Linked DNA regions of Homo sapiens. The main gene of each other region encodes a partner of the protein of the gene in region 7 in a complex. Each region holds a gene or a part of one and is shown on either strand. Other genes may lie near its edges. The genes, in order: MED26, MED16, MED23, MED4, MED31, MED25 and MED13.

Region 1 (3,500 bases), on a different chromosome or scaffold from region 7:
TAAATCCTCTACTCTCCTTTTGAAAAGGCTACTAACAGTTTTTCAGAGCAGTTGGAGCTTTTCTTTTCGTCGTGCACCCTTTCAGCCCAGGGTGTTGAAAATCTCTCCGAAGCGCAGTGTGTGCATGATTGTTCCAGCTTACTCTCACTGCATTGTGGGTAAAGTGAAGGACTGTGTCTTACTCTCGCACAGCAGTCATAGTGAGCAGTCTCCTCAGCAGGTGATTCGGTTCCCATCTGCCTGGGACACTCGTTCTGTGGAGGTATGAGCTTTATCTTCCTGTGCAGCACGCAAGCTTCTTGGGGATGTTTCCTGTCTTGTCTTCTCCCTCTAGAGCAGAAGCATTAGGCACACTTTCTACCTGCTGCTTAAACTGACTGAACCCTAGCATCCATCTTGGACCTGTGCCTGAGGAGCTACATTTGAGCCCCATTTTACCAAGAAGCCTTTGTGACCACTTTATGCCCAAGAGTTCAGTCGTGGAATATTCTAATGCAGAACTTTGGAGAGTGGAAGAATCACAGGTGGCTTGAGATGCTACTCAGTAGAACTGTGAGGAACACAGATGTTAAGTGATGATTAACAAACTTAGCTTTTAGAGGAAAGGTCCGACGAATAGTAGACGGTGTACTGCATCCTCATGGCAAGTAAAATAACCGCACAGGGCAGGGCTTGCTAGCTGCAGGTGAATGCCCTGTGTTCAGACCAGGGAGAGGCCTGAGAAGGTCCCGCAGCAAAGAGGGACTTGAACTAGCCCTGGCCGCGTGTGTCAGTGCCTCCAGCTGCCAGGCTCTGAGCGGGAAACGTCCTTGGGAGCTGCTTTCTTTTTCACAGCTCTTCAGGCAACAGAGACCAAGGGAGAGGTGACCGAGGCACTCTGCAGAGAGACACAGCAAGAAAGATCATTTTCCCACCTAAGAATTGGAAGGTTGGATGTTGCTTACCTTGGTTTGCCTGCAGATTTCTTGTCCACAGGGTGGGATTGGGAACTGGTGTATGCACCCCATAAAGCTCCTTCCAGATCTAAGTTCAGATCCTAGAAGGGACAGCAGAGACTAATGTCAATTGTTCTAGAAGGGGTTTTTTTTTTTTAATATATCTTTGCAAGGTACATTGTGTGAAGTTTCTCAACTAACAAAATTCTAAACCAAGGTGTATGCTTTGTTAGTTTGTGTGGCACCCTGTCAGAGAGTTCTGCTTCTCCCCAACAGCCTTGTGAGTGGGGGAGCCAGTCTCCCCTTTTGCAGGTGCAGAAGCCAGCAGCATCAGGTAATAGGTGCTGCTCAGTGGGTGTCTCCAGGGGCAAGCAGAGGATAAAATGCTTTTGTTTCTTACTGACTTAATGGGAGGTGGTGGAACCAAAGTTAGGGACTTACCCAGAGTCATTAAGTGACAGTCCTTAGAGTCCTTTCAACTCTGAACACCACCACGCTGCCTTGAAAGTTGGAGAGATGGCTCCGGAAGAGGCACGAGGGGGCAGCATTTTTGAGCTGGTAAGAAAACGTGTGAGGATCCTGTAACGTCCCCTACAAGTGTATGTGAGATTACAGATTGGGGCTGGATTTACCTATGTTACATCTAACAGGGTGGTGATATGACATAGCCTGTCCCGTGAACATCTTAAGGTCTCTGTCACAGACAGAAACCTGGGCCAGACCACGGTGTGGCAACTAGCAACCGATGTGGAACTTTTCATGAATCTGTGTGACCAGTTTGCTCTCTACTTCAACATTACAGCACTTTTGATATTAACTTAAAATGCCATTTATTCTGCAGAAAAGCAGAATGGTGTAAATTGCAAAATGAAGGACTCTTGATTCTGACCCTATCCAAAATAGTAGAGGACCCTAAACCCAAACATGTAAATGCCACCTGATCCACAATTGCCCAGATTCAGGGACTCTCCTGTCTTTACTCTGTATATTGTGGCCAGGACACAGGAGAGGAGCAGCGTGGTGTTCTCTGACTTCGGGAAATGGAAAGGTAGCAAGTATCACCTGTGACACAGGTGTATGTCCTTGTCTTTGACTCATTCTGTCCCTCAGGAGAAAGTGGACTTTACAGTCTCTCCTCACTGAGGTTTCTGGGTGGTCCTCAGAATATGTTGTCCTGGTTGGAGGTCCCAGAGCCCTGGAGGACTGTCCAAGACCAGCATGTGGTCAGGGGCTTTGTTCTGGATACAGATGTAAAAAGGCACCATGGTCACGTCAGCCCCTGGGCAGCTGTGTAAGATAGGACATGTAGCTTAAGGGCGCCAAGGTCTCTTAGGTGAAGGAGGACACTTGGCTTTCCTTTTCTTGGTTTTGGGGTCTGCGAGCATCTTCTCAGATGGAGCTCTAGTTTAACCAGGCTGACTCCAGGTGACTCCAGTCCAGCGGGAGGGGTCCCCTGGCCACTTCCCCACTATCATCTCCTTCTGGAAACTGGGTGCTTTGTTACTGCACGTTGTGCTTTTCCTTTGTATTCCTAGTGGTAGGCTGTCCCACGTCTGCCTGGTTCCTTTGGGGACCAGGAGCTGGTTGTCAGAATGGGTGGCCAAGTTTGTGGCACAGTGAGTAAAGGAGAGGCAGCACATTTCATTCCAGTGTGGTCTCGCTAGCACCCATGCTTGGAGCACCTTCCAAAACAGCCGCTTTTCACTCTTAGAGCAGGGTGTGGATTTGCCATCGGGATTCCCTGAACCGGGAAGCATTTCCTGAGTAAGAAAGACATACCGATAATTCTACATGCTGTATTTAAAGGCCTTCTCTGAATACATTCCATGCCTTGGGAGGCACTGCAGTTACATTTCAGTCACTAACTGATTAGCAAGTGCTCGTGTGCTGGGTGTAGAGGGTACAGACCTGAAGATGCTCAGCCCCTGTGCCCAAGGGGCTTGGCGCCTCATAGGGAGGAGGGCAGATAGAGCATGGTCATGAACGAGCTTGGGTGGGGTGCCGTGGCATGTGGGCTCGGCAGTCAGGGATGGCCTGATGGTGCCGCAGGTCTCAAGTCCAAATGGAACAGTTCTCCCCGTGCCTTATTTGAAAACAGTTGAGAATTCTTAAGAATATGAGATGGCTTTCTTAAGTATATTCTATCATCCAGGTTTTCAGAATAAGTTCTGTAGTCAGGCAGGCAGGCTCTTCTTGCGTTGTCTCTGGCATGAGGGGAACAGAGCTGGAAGGAACAGTCGGCAAATTATTGCACAGTTTTCCCTCTCTGCTGTGGGATGGGGCACAGGCAGATGTCGAGCTGTGTCTGTGGGTATGGTTGGGGTGTCTGGGCTTGAGAAAATGGGAAGGGCCTTGGGGTAGCATTACATGGCACTGGTTTTCAGTATTTGGGGTGTTGTTGTACCCTCTGGATTAGATTTGCTCTGTGTGGCTTTTGGAGGCAAGCCTAGGGTGGGGAAGGTGAGAGTTCTGTGATGTGCTTAGGGAAGTGGTGGATTATTGTCAGAGCTGACTTAACACAGTCTGGGGGCACTGTGAGATGGCTATGTGGACATACCCAGGCCC
Region 2 (3,500 bases), on a different chromosome or scaffold from region 7:
GTGGGGCTGGGGCTGGTGGGCATTGACAACCAGGGGAACGTGAGCTGCTGGGGCACGTGGGGCTGGGCTTGGGGGGCATTGACAACCACGGGAAGGTGAGCTGCTGGGCATTGACAACCAGGGGAAGGCGAGCTGCTGGGGCGTGGCCCTGGTAGGCATTGACAACCAGGGAAAGGCGAGCTGCTGGGGCACGTGGGGCTGGGGCTGGTGGGCATTGACAACCAGGGGAAGGCGAGCTGCTGGGGCACGTGGGGCTGGGGTTGGTGGGCATTGACAACCAGGGAAAGGTGAGCTGCTGGGGCATGTGCGGCTGGGGCTGGTGGGCATTGACAACCAGGGGAAGGTGAGCTGCTGGGGCACGTGGGGCTGGGCTTGGTGGGCATTGACAACCATGGGAAGGTGAGCTGCTGGGCATTGACAACCAGAGGAAGGCGAGCTGCTGGGGCATGTGGGGCTCGGCTTGGTGGGCATTGACAACCATGGGAAGGTGAGCTGCTGGGCATTGACAACCAGGGGAAGGCGAGCTGCTGGGGCACGTGGGGCTGGGGCTGGGGCTGGGGCTGGGGGGTATTGACAACCAGGGGAAGGCGAGCTGCTGGGGCACGTGGGGCTGGGGCTGGGGCTGGTGGGCATTGACAACCGGGGGAAGGTGAGCTGCTGGGACATGTGGGGCTGGGGCTGGGGCTGGTGGGCATTGATAGCCAGGGGAAGGTGAGCTGCTGGGGCACGTGGAGCTGCGGCCGGGGCCGGGGCCGGGGCCGGGGCCGGGGCTGGTGGACATTGACAACCAGGGAAAGGTGAGCTGCTGGGGCACGTGGGGCTGGGGCTGGGGCTGGGGCTGGTGGGCATTGACAACCAGGGGAAGGGGAGCTGCTGGGGCACGTGGGGCTGGGGCTGGTGGGCATTGACAACCAGGGGAAGGGGAGCTGCTGGGGCACGTGGGGCTGGCCCTGGTGGGGATTGACAACCAGGGGAAGGCGAGCTGCTGGGGCACGTGGGGTTGGGGCTGTTGGGCATTGACAACCAGGGGAAGGTGAGCTGCTGGGGCACGTGGGGCTGGGGTTGTGGCTGGTGGGCGTTGACAACCACGGGAAGGTGAGCTGCTGGGGCATGTGGGGCTGGGGCTGGGGCTGGTGGGCATTGACAACCACGGGAAGGTGAGCTGCTGGGGCACGTGGGGCTGGGGCTGGTGGGCATTGACAGCCAGGGGAAGGTGAGCTGCTGGGGCACGTGGGGCCGGGGCCGGGGCCGGGGCTGGGGCTGGTGGACATTGACAACCAGGGAAAGGTGAGCTGCTGGGGCACGTGGGGCTGGGGCTGGGGCTGGGGCTGGTGGGCATTGACAACCACGGGAAGGTGAGCTGCTGGGGCACGTGGGGCTGGGGCTGGTGGGCATTGACAACCAGGGGAAGGCGAGCTGCTGGGGCCCGTGGGGCTGGGGCTGGGGCTGGGGCTGGTGGGCATTGACAACCAGGGGAAGGTGAGCTGCTGGGGCACGTGGGGCTGGGCTCGGTGGGCATTGACAACCACGGGAAGGTGAGCTGCTGAGCATTGACAACCAGGGGAAGGTGAGTTGCTGGGGCACGTGGCGCTGGGGCTGGGGCTGGGGGGCATTGACAGCCAGGGGAAGGCGAGCTGCTGGGGCACGTGGGGCTGGGGCTGGGGCTGGTGGGCGTTGACAACCACGGAAAGGTGAGCTGCTGGGGCACGTGGGGCTGGGGCTGGGGCTGGGGCTGGTGGGCATTGACAACCACGGGAAGGTGAGCTGCTGGGGCACGTGGGGCTGGGGCTGGTGGGCATTGACAACCAGGGGAAGGCGAGCTGCTGGGGCATGTGGGGCTGGGCTTGGTGGGCATTGACAACCACGGGAAGGCGAGCTGCTGGGGCACGTGGGGCTGGGGCTGGGGCTGGGGCTGGGGCTGGTGGGCATTGACAACCAGGGGAAGGTGAGCTGCTGGGGCACGTGGGGCAGGGGCTGGTGGGCATTGACAACCAGGGGAAGGCGAGCTGCTGGGGCACGTGGGTCTGGGGCTGGGGCTGGGGCTGGGAGGGTGCCAGAGGGAGGCGCCCCCGGGGGAAGGGACCACAGGTGCAAGCCCCTCGCCAGCCCCTGCCTGCGCTGCCTTGTCTGTGTGATGGGTTCGTCTTGTTGAGCGAGGTCAGTGGGGTGGCTCACAGCACGTATTAGGAGCTTCGTAACTAGGAGCTGTTGAGAGGACCGCCTTTCACGGGGTAGACTCCTCAGGTAAAGCAGACGAGTGTAAGCCTGGCTCGGCATCCAGTGCAGTCGGGGCTCAGGGAGGTTTCCTTCCCTGTTCCCAGAGGCATTGTGCATGACCCTGACAGAAAGGTACAGACGCTACAGACACATGCGCGCACACAGGCCCACACACGGGCGTGCGCGCACACAGATCCACACACGTGCCGCAGCCCCAGGGCCCCATTCCTCTCCCGGCTGAGGGCGCAGCCCCATCTCACCGGGCTCTCCTTGGGCTCTGTCTCTGGCAGCTGAGCGTGCTCCGCCTCTCACCTTCCATGGGCCACCCGCTGGAGGTGGGGCTGGCGCTGCGGCACCTGCTCTTCCTGCTGGAGTACTGCATGGTGACCGGCTACGACTGGTGGGACATCCTGCTGCACGTGCAGCCCAGTATGGTACAGAGCCTGGTGGAGAAGCTGCACGAGGAGTACACGCGCCAGACCGCTGCCCTGCAGCAGGTGGGGGCCCGTGGCAGGTGGGGCCCCGTGGCAGGTGGGGGCCCTGTGGCAGGTGGGGGCCCCGTGGCAGGTGGGGCCCCGTGGCAGGTGGGGGCCCCGTGGCAGGTGGTCCCGTGCCAGGTGGGGCTGTCCCTGTGGCAGGCAGGGGCCCCGTGGTCAGTAAAGTGCCAGCAGCAGGGAGGGAGTTCCCTTGGAGGGTGGAGGAGGTCTCTGCAGCAGTTGTAGAGGTCCCCACGGCAGATGTGGGGGTTGTGGCAGCTGGAGGGGTTTCCCTGCGGCAGGTTGGGGGCTCTATGGCAGGCGGAGGGCAAGAGGGGCAGGTAGCCTGTGGCAGGTGAGGCTGCGTGTGGGGTGTGCTCCCAGAGGCCCGTCCAGGAAAGCTGCACCTCAGAGAAGCAGTTTCCTTCCTTACCTGGGAAGTTTCTTCTGTAACACGTTAAGCCCCACAGGTAAGGCCTGATCCCCCCTGGACGGCTCCCCTCTCCAGTGTTCCCAGTCTGGAGGTATCTTTCTAAGCCATCCTCTCAGAATGTGATGGGTACCAGGATGCACACCCGGTGGCCCTGTGGTGTGAGGCCTCAGCAAACACGGTCAGAAGATGAACACACAGAGACCCGCCCGTCGGAAGGAGAGGAGGGAGCGGATACGGAGGCCCACGTGCCAGAAGGGTCCCTTGCAGTGGTGTGGTTATGTGCCTGCAATCCCAGAGTGTCCTCGAAGGACCTCAGATCTAACGAGCTCAGCCGGCAGCTGCACGTGGGACCAGCCCTCTGAGCTTCACTTGTT
Region 3 (3,500 bases), on a different chromosome or scaffold from region 7:
ACTACTTTTGAAGTTCCCATGTAATAAAAATGGTAGCATTTTATCTATGTAATTACAAAATGTTAAGCTTAATGTGACAAATACTAAATCTGAATTTTTTAATTTTGCTTTTTTTAAAAATTATTTTCATCCACAGATGCTCATAGTGAAGTATTTCTTTCATAGTATTGGTATACTTCCAGTTGTAGTATTAGCTATTGGTTATAAAAATGTAACTTTAGACCCCAAGTAAAATCATTCTCTCATTTTCCAGGAGTCTCATGAACAGTGTATCCAGTGGATTGTTAAGTTTATTCATGGTCAGCATAGTCCTAAAAGAATTTCTTTTCTTTATGACTGCTTAGCAATGGCAGTTGAGACTGGTCTCCTTCCACCCAGGTACGTTTAATGGGTATGAGCAATCTGAAGAATTTTCTTTTCTATATGTGATTGGAAATTGGTTGAGGTTGTTGTTGTAAAAAGGTAAGAGAATGAAGAAGAAGGTGAGGTTTATCAAGTAATCCTTTATATAATACCTCAGGTTTTAGTTTCTAGGAGTAATAGTCTTTGAATTAGGTAATGCTTGTGGGCTCAAAACCAGATGTTTCTGCCCAGGGGCTGAAATTAATCACTTTAATTAGTTTGTAACCCTTTACTTTTGCTGCACAACCTCAACACCTTATGGCTTAAAACAGTAATACTCAGGTTTTAAAATTATTCATGGTTTTAGTGGTTGACTCGGCTTAGGAGACACTTTTTACTCAAGGTCATAATGATTGTGATCAATGTGGCTAGGGCTGGAGCATGGCAAAAGCTTCCCCACTCAGATATCTGGTGGTTGATTCCTGGCTGTCATCTGGAACCTCAGCTGGGATTATTAGCCAGAACCTCCGCAGGCCCTCACCTTGTGGCCTAGACTTTCTCACCTCATGGTGGAGCCTAACAGCAAGTGTGCAAAAGAGGGCTAGGCAGAAATTGTATCACCTTGTCTTCTTGGAAGTCATACTGCATCCTTTTGGCCATAGTCTTAGGTCTGCCCAGATCTAAGGAGTGAGAACGTAGACTTTCCCCCTACCTCTCCTTGGGAGAAATGTCAGTGTCACATTTCAGAAGAAGATGTGGGATCAAAAATCTTGTTGCCATCCTGTTGGAAAAATCCAGTGTACCACAAGGTGATAGATGGTAAACATCTAACCGAAAGCTTTAGATAGACTTCTTTCTAGTAAAATATAACATAATGAATATTATTTCATTCTTACTTTGTTTTTGATCTTTCATACAAGTAAAAAATGTAAAATACTACACAGATTTATAAGTGTGCTTAGTAATCACTTTTATGAAAGACACTTGTGAGGATAAATATAATACAGTGCACAGACTATGGCTGTATTAGTCTGTCTGATGCTGCTAACAAAGATATACCCGAGACTGGGTAACTTATAAAGGAAAGAGGTTTAATTGACTCACAGTTTGGCATGGCTAGGGAGGCCTCAGGAAACTTAGAATAATGGCAAAAGGCACCTCATCACAGGGTGGTGGGAGAGAGAATGAGTGCCCAGTGAAGGGGGAATCCCCATATAAAACCATTAGATCTTGTGAGAACTAACTCACTATCATGAGAACAGTATTGGGGGAACTGTCCCTCATGATTTAAATGGTTTTTCTCATGACACGTGGGGATTATGGGAACTACAATTCAAGATGAGATTTGTGTGAGTACACAGCCAAACCATATTGGCGGCTATTAGAGAACTTGGAAAATTCTGTCTTGTAACTGGAATGGCTATTTCTTTTTTTATAGGCTGGTTTGTGAATCCCTGATAAACTCTGACACTCTTGAGTGGGAAAGAACACAGCTTTGGGCCTTAACATTTAAACTGGTTCGGAAAATAATTGGGGGAGTGGATTACAAGGTATATTTTTCTTATTATAAAAAGTGATTGCTTTCAGATATGATTGATTTTTCGGTGTGCATGTCTTATTTTCAGGTGAGAGAAATGATGTGGAAGCATTTACAAAATCTGTCTATTTCTTGTGGTATATTTCCTGAAAAGATTTAAAGTTACTCAGTTGTTTCCCTGGCTCCGCTACTCCCCTCCCAACATTCTTATAAATACAGGTAGCTGATACATTTTTATGAAGAGCAGGGAAGTCACAAAGCAGAATCCGTGTTCCTTCATGCTGCAAGTATTATGATCCCTTCAAATGAAAGCACAGAGCAGGGGTGTGTGGAACTGAGAAGGGATGTAGGCATCACTGATGAAGGGAGCAAGACCTGGCTTCACTTCTCTTGAACGTGGGTCTTACCTCAATTAATATCTTCAGCACTTTGGGCTCTTGACCAAAAACAACATACACTTTCTAGTTTTGTCTCATAAAACGGCTTAGGGACTCCATAGCTACAAAAGCCATTCTGCATCTTCAGGAGACTTTTGTTATTGTCCTTTTCCCGGGAATTACCAGTGTCTGACCCTGTGCTTTATTTCTGCATTTTCTCTAATCTGAAATGATTTAACAGGTAATGACCTAACAGATAATTATTAGTTTAAATCATGATTTATCACACAGTTAACTCTAAGAAGCTTTTGCTAATTATTTTCTCTTTACTCAGACTTATGCAATTTTCTTATTTGTATGATACTTCATAATTGTTCTTTTAGGTATATGTTCTGTCTTTTACAAGCTTGGTTACGTAGTTCATAGTCAATAAATAAATGTTGAATGAAATTTCTTCTTTATATATCAGATAATGTAACTGGTATTGGATATGTGGAAATGATTAACAGAATAGCCTTGGATATCCTTGAGAGATTAAGGTATGTGATGGATGAGAAGGGAGAATAGGCCAGTCACAGTGGCTTACACCTATAATCCCAGCACAAAAGGGAGTGAGCAGAAACAGTCCTCTACCAAAAAGTTTGATATTGTTACTCAAGTTTTCAGAGTGCATTGAAGTCTTGTTACAATATATTTCTGTCTATATGTATAATTAAGGTTTTTGACCCTTGTAACAACGTAAACCCTTCTAATGTTATGAGGGCCAAAAAAGCTTGACAAACTGTATAATGACTTTCTTTGCTCATTGTATTTTAAGACAGTCTTTAGAACTCTGTTTTGGAACATGACTCTTCTGTTGGGTTAATGTTAGGGACTTAGATTGTAACTGATTCAGAAAATTTAAAGGTGTGACCTTGAAGGAATATATCACCCTGAAACCTTCGGACGTTTTAGCTAACACAGTAGACACTACTTAATTTTAACCCATGTCTTTTTTCTTATATCAGGGTGTTCGAGATCTCTTAAAAGTGATTTTGGAGAAGATTTTGACAATTCCTAATACAGTGAGCTCTGCTGTTGTACAGCAGCTTCTGGCAGCAAGAGAGGTAATTTAGACATGTCTGAAATTCGTGATCATAACCTCAAAAAAGTCTAGCTTTGTTTAGGTCTGTGCTTTTAATACTTACGGTATTTTGTGAGATGCTCTATTTCTTCTACCAAAAAAAAATCACTTCTATTTTAAA
Region 4 (3,500 bases), on a different chromosome or scaffold from region 7:
TGAAGATTCTTAGGTGACTATGTACAGACATAGATTTAATTTAAAATGTATTTATCCTTAGAAACCTCTGCCACATATTTTCACATCTTTAATGGTTTATAAGTAATGATATAGGCCATGGGTTTTATAAATTTGGTTTTCTGTGAAGCCATTGTTGCTAGGGACTGTGTTTCTTTCGTCTTTTGAAATAATAAATTGATAATTTTTTAAAGTACGAGATAATAATGTGATGCTTCTAAAGCTTTGGATTTATATACCATTTTATCAGGGCTGGCCAGAAGCAAACTCTTTAGAGCCATTAGGATTTCCACAAAGGTTCCAGCCTGAGAAAGACAATTCCAGTTCTCTTAGATGCTAAAGACAAAGCACTACGCACCCAACAGTGAACATACAGGCTTGGAAAGAGCTGGGATAATTAGACAGCAAAAGAGAGGATCAAGCTGCAACTATATTGACAGTGGATGAAACATAAAACAGGAGACGTAAGGTAGCAGCCTTATTGGAGGAAGGGGAAATATTAGTAGTTATCTCCACTTCAAAATAACTTCTGAAGGTGCTGTGTTACCATGCTGAAAGCACTAAGGGTGACTATAATTTTGGGGATGGATAAGCTGCAGTTGGTGAGATGTGCCCAAAAAGTCAATCCAAATCTGGTCAAGTTTTTGTCAACCACATACTGCTATTTAGTGTGCTTTCATGTTTGGGATGGACATTACCTGCTCCTGCTATTTTGCCACTTACACGAATTAGTTTCTGAATTACAAGATCAAAGAGGTTGGTTAGAAAAAGGTTTTATCTTAGACAAGGTGGCATGAGGAAAATAAAAGTAAAACAAAAAGATGAAAAATGTAAAAAAAAAAAAAGATTTTAAATTGAGACAGTCCTTCTATTAAACATTCCAGTCCTTTCTGTCTTATAAGTGTCATGATTTTTTTCTCCCTTGCAGCATAATCATTGTCATTTTCTTGCTAGAAAATACAGTTAAGTTTGAATAATTGAGATTATTATAATTTTCTTAAGTTGTCATCTGGAATGTCTACAAAAAAATGACATCTCTTTTTTTTTAAAGTGTAGAAAATAGTATATTCTTGGGAAGATTCAGAAAAGAAATTAAAATGCGTGTATTTTAAAAAGTAATATGCTATTAATAACAATTTATAAGGTGACTTTTATATTTCTTTCTTTCTTTTTTTTTTTTTTTTTTTTTTGAGACAGGGTCTTGCTCTGTGGCCCAGGCTGGAGTGCAGTGGTGCAATCTCAGCTCACTGCAACCTCTGCCTCCCGGGTTCAAGCGATTCTCCTGCCTCAGCCTCCCGAGTAGCTGGGATTATAGGTGCGTGCCACCACGCCTGACTAATTTTCTTATTTTTAGTAGAGACGGGGTTTCACCATGCTGGCCAGGCTGGTCTTGAACTTCTGACTTGAGGTGATCCACCCACCTCGTCCTCCTAAAGTGCTGGGATTACAGGCGTGAGCCACTGCACCTGGCCAGATGACTTCTGTATTTCAAAATTGAAAATGTAGCCTGAACTTTTCAGCATGAACCAGCGAAAATGAGTATGTCAAATAACATATTAACACTTATTTTTTAAAATATGATTGAATTAAATGCAGTCTTTATTGTTTTAGGGGACCCCCGGAGACCCTACCCAACTGATTTAGAGATGAGAAGTGGGTTACTGGGTCAGATGAACAATCCTTCCACTAATGGCGTGAATGGCCATTTACCAGGAGATGCACTTGCAGCAGGAAGATTGCCAGGTAATGTTAAGCCGAAGAGTGTTTTCAAACAGATCAGGGTTTTCCAGAGATGACAAGGTTGGAATATCTGGCGGTAAAGCAAGTTTGAGATTCCCGACACAATTTTTTTTTTTTTGTAAATTTGAGACAGTCTTGTTATGTCACCCAGGCTGGAGCGTGTTGGCGAAATCTTGGCTCCCAGGTTCAAGTGATTCTTGTGCCTCAGCCTCCCGAGTAGCTGGGATTACAGGTGTGTGCCACCAGGCCTGGCTAATTTTTGTATTTTTAGTGGATATGGGGTTTCGCTCTGTTGGCCAGGCTGGTCTCGAACTCCTGACCCCAAGCAATCACCTGCCTCAGCCTCCCAAAGTACTGGAATTACAGGTGTGAGCCAGTGTGCCTGCCTCTCAGACCCAGTTCATTGTAATAGCTAGATTCTTTGCCGGTTTATTCTGCTCTAAAGATTCTCCTTGAGGGAGGTATGAAATTAGAACAAGCTGCCTTTCTCTTATTTGTAAATATTACACTGTCTTCCTCAGGCATTTGGCCTCTCTTTTTAAATTATTGCTCTAAACATAGCTTTTTTATAATTGTGAAACATGCTATGTAAATAGAGTAAGATAGTTTACGGAATAAAGTGAACACACTCCTGAACAACCCCCAAGTTAACAAAATGAATAACAATAGCTTTTTATAAACTTTTATAACTTTATAAAATAGTATTTCTGTGAGACCCAGTTCATTCTGAGCTTCAGTTTTCCTCAAGTTTTTCATAGGTTTGTGCTATTTTTATATATATTTGTTTTATATTATTCCTCATCTTTTATAGTTTGTAGGTGACTTTTGTTTTGATGTGGTAGAACATTTGGGAAGTAGAAAAAGGCATTTAAAAAAGGAAAAAAATATACCCTTTCTGAGGCAGTCACTTTAAATATTTTAGCCTGTTTCCTTTTTTCCCCTATACATTTTTTGCTTAATGTTACATCATAAGGCTGTCCCTGTGTCATTAATAATGCTTTGTATGCATCATTTTTGTTAGCTACCTAAAGTACAACCAGGGGAACTCAACTGTGATATCCTTGGATATCACCTCATATTTCTCATGTTTTAAAAGTACAGGAAAAACAGATATGGGGAGTCACTGCCACATTTTGGACCAAGGAAGGGACAGACCTAAAAACAGTCTTCCCCAGCTCCATCCCAAGGCCGATACTCTCATATCATGGTGCTGTCATTGGAGAGGGTGCAGTGTAATGTGGCCCACTCCATGGCAGAGAAGTTAGATGAGGCATCAGAGGCCAGAGCTGGCAAGCAGGAAATTACCCACTGGGGTTCCAGGGAGACTTGCTGGGAAGCTGCCCTTTGGGATTCTGGTGAAACCTGCTAGGAAACCACCTTTAGAGGCGCCACCGAAAGTTGCTGTGGTGAACACCACTTAATGTCCTGCACACCAACCAGGCATCACAGCAGTAAAGGAGACAAAACCACCTGATCCAGGAAGTGAAACTTGTTTGCTAGTGGAGTCCCACCTGTGCCCTCTACTGACAAAACTTAATTGTGGCAGCTGGCAAAGGAGAAATGGTTTCAGGGGCCAGAGAGAAGGGTAGATTTGAGGCTAACTGGCATACCTTTCTAGTTAATACCATAACTCTTTCTTTTGACCCTTTAAAAATCTGCCTTCTTTATTTGAGTCTTGAACTATACCTGTTTATGTGCTCTGTCCCTTTGCTTCAGAAATACAGACTTTAAATGTAACTTGG
Region 5 (2,898 bases), about 55 Mb from region 7:
TAAAGAAATTTACATCCATTTAGTGTGGACTTTTGGATTCTTATTTTTAGTAGAATTATGAATTAGAATTATGTATTTTCTTGCGCTAAGTATTCCAGATTTGGCCATTGGGAGGCCCTTCAAGTTGGCTCCTGAATACTTTTGATCCTCCCAGGAATTTTTAGCACTTTTTCTTCTGGCACTACGTAATGTTCCAGGCTCATCTTGTACTTTTCCTGTCTTATCCCTGAATCACCCTTTTCTCCAAGGAAACCTGCTCCTTGGAAACCACAGTCTGGTCATTGTGTGTTCATTAGTACCACAGTGTCATTGCTTCTAGGCCCTGTCAGTACACAAAGCTCAAGAACTATATATATATGTATGTATGTGTATACATGCACACACATATACATGTTTATTCTATGTCTATATTAAAAGCCGTAAGTACATACTGATGTTTTCAATACCAGCTCAGTAACACAGGGTTCATTCTAGCCTTTTTCCTTTCCATGTCTATAACTCCTTTTCTGATAGCCAGAAATTTGGCTGTCCTTATCCACAGTATATTTGCTTGTCCAATCCTAGAGTATATCTAATTTCAGAATTGGTATATCCCTGTGGACAACAAGAGTACAATGTATGCGCATAGTCCTCTTTCACACTCACTTTTAAATGAAAGTTGTCTTTTTATCCCTATTGAAGGAAAAATGAGTAACTATCAATTAAACACATAATTACTAAAATATGTTCATGTTCTTCACGTTGGAAACCGCTAGAAGGGAATAGCATGGTTTGTCCCTAAATTTTCACTCTGCTTACCAGTTACTGTGTTGTGTGGTCTTGAGCAAGTTAATTTAATCTTTCTGAACTTAAACCTTCTCATTTTCGAAAATATTGAACACTGACCTTTGATGACTAATCGGGGAAAAAACCCTATGCTACCAGAGTGTACTAAGTTACTGTTATAGAAATGGTAGGCTACAAGATCGTTTTTAAGAGAATAACTGAATTATACCTTGGCATTATTTACCTAAATTATGTTGTTCATTCACTTACAAACTTAAACCCAGGTACCCTCAGTGTTTACACATGTTAGAGCTGCTCCAATATGAACACTTCCGAAAGGAGCTGGTGAATGCTCAGTGTGCGAAATTTATTGATGAACAGCAGATTCTACATTGGCAGCACTATTCCCGGAAGCGGATGCGCCTTCAGCAAGCCTTGGCAGAGCAGCAACAGCAAAATAACACATCGGGAAAATGAAAAACTGGATACAAACGAGGCACTTAATACATGTATATAATGTATTTCTTTTGTACAGTGAAGACAAAAAAAATGAAAACTCTTCCTATCTACCTTTATTATGGTAGCCCCTAGAACCTTTAGTGTGCTTTTTCATCCAACTTTTTATTGTTAATAGACTATTTCTGTTAAACCTGAATTGTTCTTTGATTTCCCTGTGGATTTGTAAGGTGTTTTTCTTTTTTACGCATTTAGCATAATCAGCTGATTAAGAATGGAAAAGTTAGGTGCTTTAGACCAAATAAGGCACTGGGGCATGGGGTAGGGGTGGGCCACCAAGTATACTGAATTCTAAGGCTAGCTGTTCCTGACATATAGTAGGGCAAGACCATCTCCTGGAACCTTACTGTCTCAGATCAACTACTCTACCACTCTACTCTAAGATGTAGTGAGAGTAGCGGAGTCACTGACCTCTTTAAATCATAGGACAGGAACTGCATAAAGGTTCTTGAATTCTGCAGGACAGGAAATAACTGTATTACCTGCTTTGCAAGGTGGCTTTAAGAATCACTGAATCACTGTGGCCTCACTTGACCTAGTCATGGCAGGACAACTAGTGGTTAGTTACTAACTGGACTCTTGACTTTAGAACAAACATGAGGAGCCTCAAATACTTGTGTTCATTTGGGAAAGCTACCATTGATTTGGGAGGTACCACAAACCAGGTGCTATGTTAAGTGCTTCCTTGAATTCTCATTTTATTCTAAGAACCTTGTTTATAGAAGAGAAAACTGAGGTTTGGACGGGGTGAGTAACTTGCCTGTGGTTACACAGCTAGTAAGTGGTAGAGTCAGTGTGACTGACTCCCAGCTTGGAGTTCTTCCCAGAACTGGGTTATAGAGTCTTTCCGGCCGCTCTCCGCCACCTGCCTCATCCCAAGTAAAGCACATTGAGACAGCTGCAAAACAAACTGCTTCTAGTGCTCAGGAGTCTGTTTTTTATTAAACAAAACAAAACTGCCTGAATTAAGCAGAGGCTAGATTAGAGGTCATGTGCTTTCCTTCAGTGGTGAGGTTAGGTTCTACATTCCAAAATCAAAGAAGGGGTTTCAGGAATATCATCAGTTGCTTTGCAGATGGAGATAACTTAAAATAAAAGATACTGATCTTTTGAGAGATTTGGAAGGTGTGCTCTGCACCTTTAGGAGTTTTTAGGTATTTCCGTCACCTTCAAGAATACGTTCCTTTGAGCCTTTACTGCTATTTCTGAAGACTTCTTTATATCTTAAAAATATCCATGTATTACAGGCAAACTAAAGGTTCATGGGCATTTTAATAGCACTCTATTGTTTAGACACATGCCAGTTTTTTTAACATCATTTATTGCTAACATGAATTCAAAGCAAGTATACAGTTTATTGATACTAGAACAAATCAGGACATCAAGACATGATTGCCATCCTAAAATCTTAATCTTCAGAGAACAACATTTCCACCAGGTTGGCCTGAAGACACTCAGATTCTACCAGTTTTTGAGGCTGTAAGAGAAAAACAGTCAAATCTTCACTACTTCTATAAAACGTTATTAGGAGTGGAATGAGTTCTGCCTTGAATGACACTCATCTTTGAACACAGAAATTACGCAATTCAGAAACTATCATCTAGTTATAACAAGTTT
Region 6 (3,941 bases), on a different chromosome or scaffold from region 7:
TGCGTAGTACATTTCTGTCAACAAACACGCTAGAAAGATTTTCCCAGTTGGCCGTATATTTTTCAACTTGGTTTATACAGTCTTTTGGGAAAAATTAATGAAGACTACGTTTTCTAACTTTGCTGTAGTGCTAAGAAACTCCATGGCAGTCATTAAGATTTTTTCCCTTCAGATAGTTTTCGGGTTTCATTTGTTGCACTTACATTTTTAATCCACCTGGAATGTATTTACGTTCTAAGCCAGTTTCTGGCTCCTCTCCCAGAAAACAACGCTCAGGTGTTGCTTAGCAACCCGCACTTGGTTTGGTGTTCGGCTTCTTTTCGGGGGGGAAAACAACTGCCCTCCCTTCCAAGTTGAGGACGACCTTAAAGCGTCGCCTAGTAACCTCGTTTCCGCCGATGTGATTGGATCCTTCTCGCGTCCCTCCCCTAGTCCCCACGCCCGAAAGAACAGAACCAGAAACTTAATCTAACGGTTACAAAACAAGGGCAGCGGGCCCGGCGCGGTGGCTCACGCCTGTAATCTCAGCACTTTGGGAAGCCAAGGCGGGCGAATCACTTGAGGTCAGGAGTTCGAGAACAGCCTGGCCCACAGGGTGAAACTCTTTCTCTACTAAAAATACAAAAATTAGCGGGGCGTGGTTGCGGGCACCTGTAATCCCAGCTACTCGGGAGGCTGAGGCAGGAGAATCGCTTGAACCCGGGAAGCGGAGGTTGTAGTGAGCCGAGATCGCGCCACTGCACTCCAGCCTGGGCGACAGGGCGAGACTCCCGTTTCGAAAAAACAAACAAACAAAAAACAAAACACAAAAACGAAAACAAGGGCAGCGTACGCGTTGCATAGCAACCAGGTCTCCTGCCCCTCCCTTTGAGACAAGAGGCGGACCTGGACGCCCCGCTCAAAGATGGCGGCTGACTGAGCCGCTTTCAATTTATTTAGCTTTTGACAATAATTCCGTCTAACCCATCAGGCCCCTAGAAGGGCTAACTATGCCCTTTCTGAGTCTTCCACGCGGTGGGGGCGAAGGAGGATGGAGCTAGAACGAAGCCTCAGCGCGTGCCCCGCACAAACATGGCAGCATTCCCAGCAGCCCTAAACCGCCCGACGCGAGCGCGCGCGCGGCGCAGGCGCATTTCTGCTCATTCCGCGGCGTCGGCTGCGGCTGCAGTGGTGGTGGCGGGTACCGCACGGGGTATGGTCCCCGGGTCCGAGGGCCCGGCCCGCGCCGGGAGCGTGGTGGCCGACGTGGTGTTTGTGATTGAGGGTACGGCCAACCTGGGACCCTACTTCGAGGGGCTCCGCAAGCACTACCTGCTCCCGGCCATCGAGTGAGTGCTGTTTCCGCGACTCTAACCCCGCCCTCCCACTTCAGTTTCGCACAGTTTCTTGCCTGACTCCGACCTTTCACTTCCTACCCTCACAGGTATTTTAATGGTGGTCCTCCTGCTGAGACGGACTTCGGGGGAGACGTGAGTCTAGGGACTCCTGGGCCTGAGGGAGGAGGGGCCGGGGGCCTGGACTCCTGGGTCTGAGGGAGGGAGAAAGGGCTGGGCCTGGACTCCTGAGTTTGAGGGAGGAGGGGCTGGGGGTCTGGACTCCTTGTTCTGAGGGAGGAGGGCCTGGGGGCCTGGACTCCTGGGTCTGAGGGTGGAGGCGCTGGGGCCCGGATTCCTGGGTCCGAGGGAGGAGGGAGCTAGGGGCCCAGATCCCTGGGTCTGAGGGAGGAAGGGCTGGGCGTCTGGACTGCTGGGTCTGAGAAAGGAGGAGCTGAGGCCTGGATTCCTGGGTCTGAGGGAGGAGGTGCTGGGGCCTGGGCTCCTGGGTCTGAGGGAGGAGGGGCCGGGGGCCTGGATTCCTGGGTCTGAGGGAGAAGGGGCTGGGGCCGAGATTGCTGGGTCTGAGGAAGGAGGAAGCTGAGGAGTTCCTGGTTCTGGAGGAACGGGAAGCTGGGAGCCCTGATTCCTTCTCTAAGGGAAAAGGGAATTGAGGTCCCAGATTAAAAGTTTTCTGTCCTCCCCTCCCAGTATGGGGGGACCCAGTACAGCCTCGTGGTGTTCAACACAGTGGACTGCGCTCCCGAGTCCTACGTACAATGTCACGCTCCCACCAGCAGCGCCTATGAGTTTGTCACCTGGCTCGATGGCATTAAGTGAGCTTTCCCCCACTTGGGGTGGGTTGCTGGTCCCTGTGAGGGGCCGTGAATGAGTGATGGCTTGGGGTGGTTGGTGTCCCCGTGAGAGGCTGTGAATAAGTGATGGCTTGGGGTGGTTGGTGTCCCCGTGAGGGGCTGTGAATAAGTAATGGCTTGGGGTGGTTGGGGTCCCTGCGAGGGGCCGTGAATGAGCGATGGCTTGGGTTTGAGCTGCAGGAAACATCTCATACATTAAGGGATTGAAAGGACTTTGAGGGTGATTGTGTTTTTGTCAGAAGTCACTTTTGTGGTGGCTTCTGTGTGCTCAGCAATGTTGCCATCAGTTTAGAAGTAGGAAAAACCTTCCCATTCAGGGAGGCCTGGCTGAGCTCCAGCAGCCACCTTGTACTCCCTGTGTGATTGTCCCCTTTCTGTCCTCTCTTTTTCCGTCTACCCCTGTCCTCCTTTTCCAGATGGGTACATTGTAGCCTCAGTGCAGGGGGATGGGTCAGAGCCAGGATAGATCCCTCTGTGGCTTGGGTCAGAATTTTTTTTTTTTTTTTTGAAACAGTGTCTTGCTCTGTCTCCCAGGCTTGTAGTGCAGTGGCACAGTCGTGGCTCACTGCAACCTGTACCTCCTGGGTTGAAGCGATTCTTCTGCCTCAGCCTCCCAAGTAGCTGGGATTACAGGCACACGCCACTATGCCCAGCTAATTTTTTTTTTTTTTTTTGTATTTTTAGTAGAGACAGTTTCACTGTGTTGGCCAGGCTGGTCTCAAACTCCTGACCTCATGTGATCTGCCTGCCTCAGCCTCCCAAAGTGCTGGGATTATAGGGGTGAGCCACTGTTGCGGGATTCAGGACGACAGGAGAGAGCCCTCGGGTTAAAGCAGGAGAATCTTTCATTGAGTGCACTCAGGCCCAAGCCGACTCACGTCCAAAGACGGCCCAGAACAAAGGTAGCACTTGACTTTTATACACACTTCACAAAAGGGGGTGGGCTAGCTTGAAGCAAGCTTACAGTGGCGTGACAGCAGGGATACAGAGGCAGAACAAAAACAGTTAATCAAATTGTTGTAACAGGTTTATAACTCAGGATTGCACATAACCGTTGCTATGCAACCCAGATGTCCCTTATCTAGGTTAGCCTAGGCACGGGCTTATCCCATAACCTTCACTGTGGTGCCCAGGCAGCTCAGGCTTCTCATGACCTTCGCTGTACTTCTTAGATAAAACAGAATACTTGAAGTCATGAGTTACAGAGAACAGGAATCTATAAACTCATTCCATAAAACAAAGGAAAATTTGTTTTTTCTTCTCTCTATGTTGAGGGAGTGCTGGGAGAGTCTCCAAGAGCACTTTAGATAGTATTATCAAGACTTTTCCTGGGTCTGGGCTGTGCCCATTGCTGCCTCTCAGACAAGTCAGCCTAATACATAGAACTTATTTCTCTTTTTAATTTTTTTTCTTTAATTTCCTGCCTCACCACCACGCCTGGCGCTGGATCGGATTTTGATAGTTGACATTGTAGAGTCTGGAGTCAGGCAGACGGGTTAAATCCTGGCTCTTCCAGCACAGAACTAACTCTCAGACCCAGGAGTCTGTCCCCTCTGTGCCTAGTATCTCACTTGTGAAGTGGGGATGTGGATAGTACTTGTATTAGTATTTCATTGTATTACTTATTCTTAGCTGTATAATAGATTACCACCAAATAATGGCTGCATACTGCAAACATTTATTATCTAACGCAGTTTCTGTGAGTCAAGGACACAAGAGTGGCTTGGCTGGATGGTTGGGCTGAGGGTCTCAC
Region 7 (3,500 bases):
ATGATTTTTGGATCAGGATTTGTGCTAACTAGTATTAGCCAAACTATAACATTCCAGAAGGTTATTTGTTCAAAAAATCTCTTGAATTCCAAAGCCAAACATAGATGATTTTCTTACTTTTTGCTTTATCCTCTATAGGATAATGATTAGTTGAATCGGGGTCGATATGTTTTGATACAAAAAGGATTAGGGAATAAAACTCCTTTGGGGTTACAGCTTTTTTCTTTCTTTCTTTCTTTTTTTTTTTTTTTTTTTTTTGAGATGAAGTCTCGCTCTGTCTCCCAGGCTGGAGTGTAGTGGGGCGATCTTGGCTCACTGCGACCTCCGCCTCCCAGGTTCAAGCGATCCTTCTGCCTCAGCCTCCCGAGTAGTTGGGACTACAGGCATGTGTCATCACGCCTGGCTAATTTTTGTATTTTTGGTAGAGATTTTAATAGGAGTTTCGCCATGTTGGCCAGGCTGGTCTGGAACTCCTGGCCTCAGGTGATCTGCCCGCCTCAGCCTCCCCAAGTGCTGGGATTACAGGCATGAGCCACCATGCCTGGCCCCTTTTTTTTAAAAATTGTATTTTGTAGCTTTGTTTAGTGGTTGTGTGATAGTGGGTGAAAGAGGTATAAAATGGGTGATGGGAAAATCTTAGCTCAGTCCCTCTGGTCAAGAATCTCTGTGGTGGGTAGGACTGGTACTTTTAAGTGTACTGTTAATTTGCTTCAGAGCAAGATTGTATCATTTTCATTAATGTGGTCTTGAAGGAGAGTTTTCTGTGTATTTTTATTCTGTGTTCTAACATTTTTGGAATTCAATTGCTGTCATCATTGGCTTTTATTCTTTCCCTTTAAATAAAAATAAAAGCAAACACTGCGTCCTCTCCCATTTGTCATCTTAAAAAAATCATAGCAAGTTAGACTGTGATGAGACTCTTTGAGAAAACTGATACCTTGTGAACTAAAAAAACTCAGGGCTAAAAATATTTGTTCTTTTTCCTGGCTCCTGAGGTCTGTAAAGTAGATTTTAGTAACATGTTCAGATAGTTTTATTATACCAGAATTTTATCATAATGAATAGTGCTCAAACTAAGTGGACTATTGTTCTGAATTTAATTTTGGATGTTTTAATTGAAGGATATTAACTGTAGTGGACTTTAACCTTAAATGACAGCTGTTAATAGGATTGACAGATAGATAAACAGCCAGGCATAGGAATCTAGTCCCAGCCAAACTAAAACATTGTTGTGTGCCCCACATAGTCTAAAGAGAGTAATTTATTTCTACTATTGTAAAATTTACTTGTGATGTGGCCCGACTCTTTAAATTGGCTAGTCTCCTAGGTGACAACTTCATTTGCTGTATTTCTTCTGCATACTGTTTTTTTGATCAAGTGTATCTTCTAAGTTTTCAAGCCAAACATAACATACTAGGCTGTTTTTAAATCAGTTTTCAAGTTTTGCCATAGATAATGATGCGGCCAACTTAAGGCTCTCGGTATATTTGTTGAATGTATAGGTTATTAATGATTATTCAGGAGAAACACTGATCTAGCATTTAAACATTTCTCTTTATTTCAGGAAATACATGGTATTTTCTACCATGTTAATTTTTGAGCCATTATTCATTAGCATATGTTACATTTTAATAGTTTTGCAAAATTGTATTGGAGAAGATTCATTTTTTACCACCGTGGAGATATTTAAAGATGCCATTTTTTTGAGAAAAATGTTGAGTGCAGGGTGTGTCTGCTTTTTTGGTTGTGATTTTTTTTCCCCATTGATAGAGAATTATTTTGATGACTTATCACATACTTTGGCACTACTGTAATCTGCATCTTCAGGAAAAAAATATGGTAATCAAATTTAGCATTTGTGTTTTCTTCCAATAAATAGTCCATAAAAATTTCAAGAAACACTGATGATTAAGAACTGTAATGCTAATAGTAACAGAAAAGTACTAAGAATGCAGAGTTGAACTTTATTTTCTCTGGACATAGAGCTACAAGAGAAGGAATTTTTTTTTCTTTTTTTTGTAGGGATGGAGGTCACACTTTGTCTCACTCAGCCTGCAGTGCTTAATCATAGCTCACTGCAGCCTCCGACTCCTGGACTCAAGCAATCCTCCCACCTCAGCTTCCCCAGCAGCTGGGCCTACAGGCATTGCCACTATGCCCTACTAACTAAAAAAAGTTTTTTGGAGTCAGGGTCTTCCTGTATTGCCAGGCTAGTCTTGAACTCCTAGCTTCAAGTGATCCTTCTGTCTTAGCTTCCCAAGTAGCTGGGATTACAGGCATGAGTCATTGCACCTGGCTAGAGGAGGAAAATAGTTATATAGATTAAGCAGACTTTTTCTATTAGGCTCTGGTTAAGTTCAAAAGAGATAGGTAAAGATTTGCCATATGTTCCCTTCTCCTTCCCCTCCCTATTATAATGCTGGTGTTGAGATTCAAGAACTTGTTTCAATTAGTGTAAATAGTGCATATCACTATGCCTTGAGTGGGTTGGTTGTACCATTTCACTTTTCGTATCTGAATACAACGTGTAGAAAGTACTTTTATTACAGTTATTAGATTGTCAGGATATTAGAAACTTGGCTCAGTAGGCTTCTTGTTTCTAAGTGATTCCCAACAAAACCAAAAACCTTCAGACTTTATTGAGCGTTATTAGGACTTACTCTCGTTTTTCTCAGCAACAAAATATGAAATTATATTACTTTAGTGTAATGGTTGCTTAGTTGCTTGCCATATAGATGAGGACATACTTCAGAGATACGTTGGATTTAGAAAACCTCAACAGGTGGTCTCTACTTGTTTGTTTTATGCATAGCTCCTATTTAGTGTTAATGAGAATTGTGGGCACTGGGGACATAAGATGCCCACCCCCTCTGAAAGCATTAGAATAATGAGGGAGAAATGCTTCAAGATTAATACTGATTACTTTTCTAAACCACATTCAATATTCTTTTTTTTTTTGAGATGGAGTCTTGCTCTGTCACCAGGCTGGAGTGCAGTGGCGTGATCTCGGTTTACTGCAGCCTCTGCCACCCAGTTCAAGTGATTCTCCTGCCTCAGCCTCCCGGATAGCTGGGACTACAGGTGCATGCCATCTCGCCCAGCTAAGTTTTGTATTTTTAGTAGAGATGGGGTTTCACTATGTTGGCCAGGCTGGTCTTGAACTCCTGACCTCAGATGATCCACCTGCCTCGACCTCCCAAAGTGCTGGGATTATAGGCATGAGCCACCGCACATGGCCTCACATTAAATATTCTTAAATCATTTGACTGCAAGTTTAACTAAAATAGATTTTACAAAATAAAACCATAAAATTTTCAGAATTTCATGTGAAAATTTATAAATTGTGCTTTAGCTTTTACTATTGCAAAGGTTTTTTTTTTTGTTTTTTTGAGTCAGAGTCTCGCTATGTCGCCCACAGTGGAGTGCAGTGGTGTGATCTCAGCTCACTGCAACTCCCATCTCTTGGGCTCAGGTGATTCTCATGCCTCAGCCTCCTGAGT

Evidence for each region.
Region 1: MED13 (region 7) and MED26 share a complex: the UniProt entries of both Homo sapiens proteins name them as parts of the mediator complex.
Region 2: MED13 (region 7) and MED16 share a complex: the UniProt entries of both Homo sapiens proteins name them as parts of the mediator complex.
Region 3: MED13 (region 7) and MED23 share a complex: the UniProt entries of both Homo sapiens proteins name them as parts of the mediator complex.
Region 4: MED13 (region 7) and MED4 share a complex: the UniProt entries of both Homo sapiens proteins name them as parts of the mediator complex.
Region 5: MED13 (region 7) and MED31 share a complex: the UniProt entries of both Homo sapiens proteins name them as parts of the mediator complex.
Region 6: MED13 (region 7) and MED25 share a complex: the UniProt entries of both Homo sapiens proteins name them as parts of the mediator complex.

What each region holds. Positions count from the first base shown.
Region 1 is NC_000019.10:16,621,705-16,625,204, reverse strand, and holds part of MED26 (mediator of RNA polymerase II transcription subunit 26), read left to right. Parts: intron 1-3,500. UniProt on the Homo sapiens protein: Component of the Mediator complex, a coactivator involved in the regulated transcription of nearly all RNA polymerase II-dependent genes.
Region 2 is NC_000019.10:876,188-879,687, reverse strand, and holds part of MED16 (mediator of RNA polymerase II transcription subunit 16), read left to right. Parts: intron 1-2,507; coding exon 2,508-2,714; intron 2,715-3,500. UniProt on the Homo sapiens protein: Component of the Mediator complex, a coactivator involved in the regulated transcription of nearly all RNA polymerase II-dependent genes.
Region 3 is NC_000006.12:131,621,743-131,625,242, reverse strand, and holds part of MED23 (mediator of RNA polymerase II transcription subunit 23), read left to right. Parts: intron 1-253; coding exon 254-378; intron 379-1,780; coding exon 1,781-1,892; intron 1,893-3,263; coding exon 3,264-3,362; intron 3,363-3,500. UniProt on the Homo sapiens protein: Required for transcriptional activation subsequent to the assembly of the pre-initiation complex. Component of the Mediator complex, a coactivator involved in the regulated transcription of nearly all RNA polymerase II-dependent genes.
Region 4 is NC_000013.11:48,078,105-48,081,604, reverse strand, and holds part of MED4 (mediator of RNA polymerase II transcription subunit 4), read left to right. Parts: intron 1-1,611; exon of another isoform or gene 1,612-1,629; coding exon 1,630-1,761; exon of another isoform or gene 1,762-1,828; intron 1,829-3,500. UniProt on the Homo sapiens protein: Component of the Mediator complex, a coactivator involved in the regulated transcription of nearly all RNA polymerase II-dependent genes.
Region 5 is NC_000017.11:6,642,811-6,645,708, reverse strand, and holds the end of MED31 (mediator of RNA polymerase II transcription subunit 31), read left to right. Parts: intron 1-1,049; coding exon 1,050-1,242; 3' UTR 1,243-2,398; downstream 2,399-2,898. Other genes in the region: TXNDC17 (thioredoxin domain-containing protein 17), read right to left, coding at 2,690-2,758. UniProt on the Homo sapiens protein: Component of the Mediator complex, a coactivator involved in the regulated transcription of nearly all RNA polymerase II-dependent genes.
Region 6 is NC_000019.10:49,817,148-49,821,088, forward strand, and holds the start of MED25 (mediator of RNA polymerase II transcription subunit 25), read left to right. Parts: upstream 1-1,141; 5' UTR 1,142-1,194; coding exon 1,195-1,328; intron 1,329-1,423; coding exon 1,424-1,469; intron 1,470-2,024; coding exon 2,025-2,149; intron 2,150-3,941. UniProt on the Homo sapiens protein: Component of the Mediator complex, a coactivator involved in the regulated transcription of nearly all RNA polymerase II-dependent genes.
Region 7 is NC_000017.11:62,055,279-62,058,778, reverse strand, and holds part of MED13 (mediator of RNA polymerase II transcription subunit 13), read left to right. Parts: intron 1-3,500. UniProt on the Homo sapiens protein: Component of the Mediator complex, a coactivator involved in the regulated transcription of nearly all RNA polymerase II-dependent genes.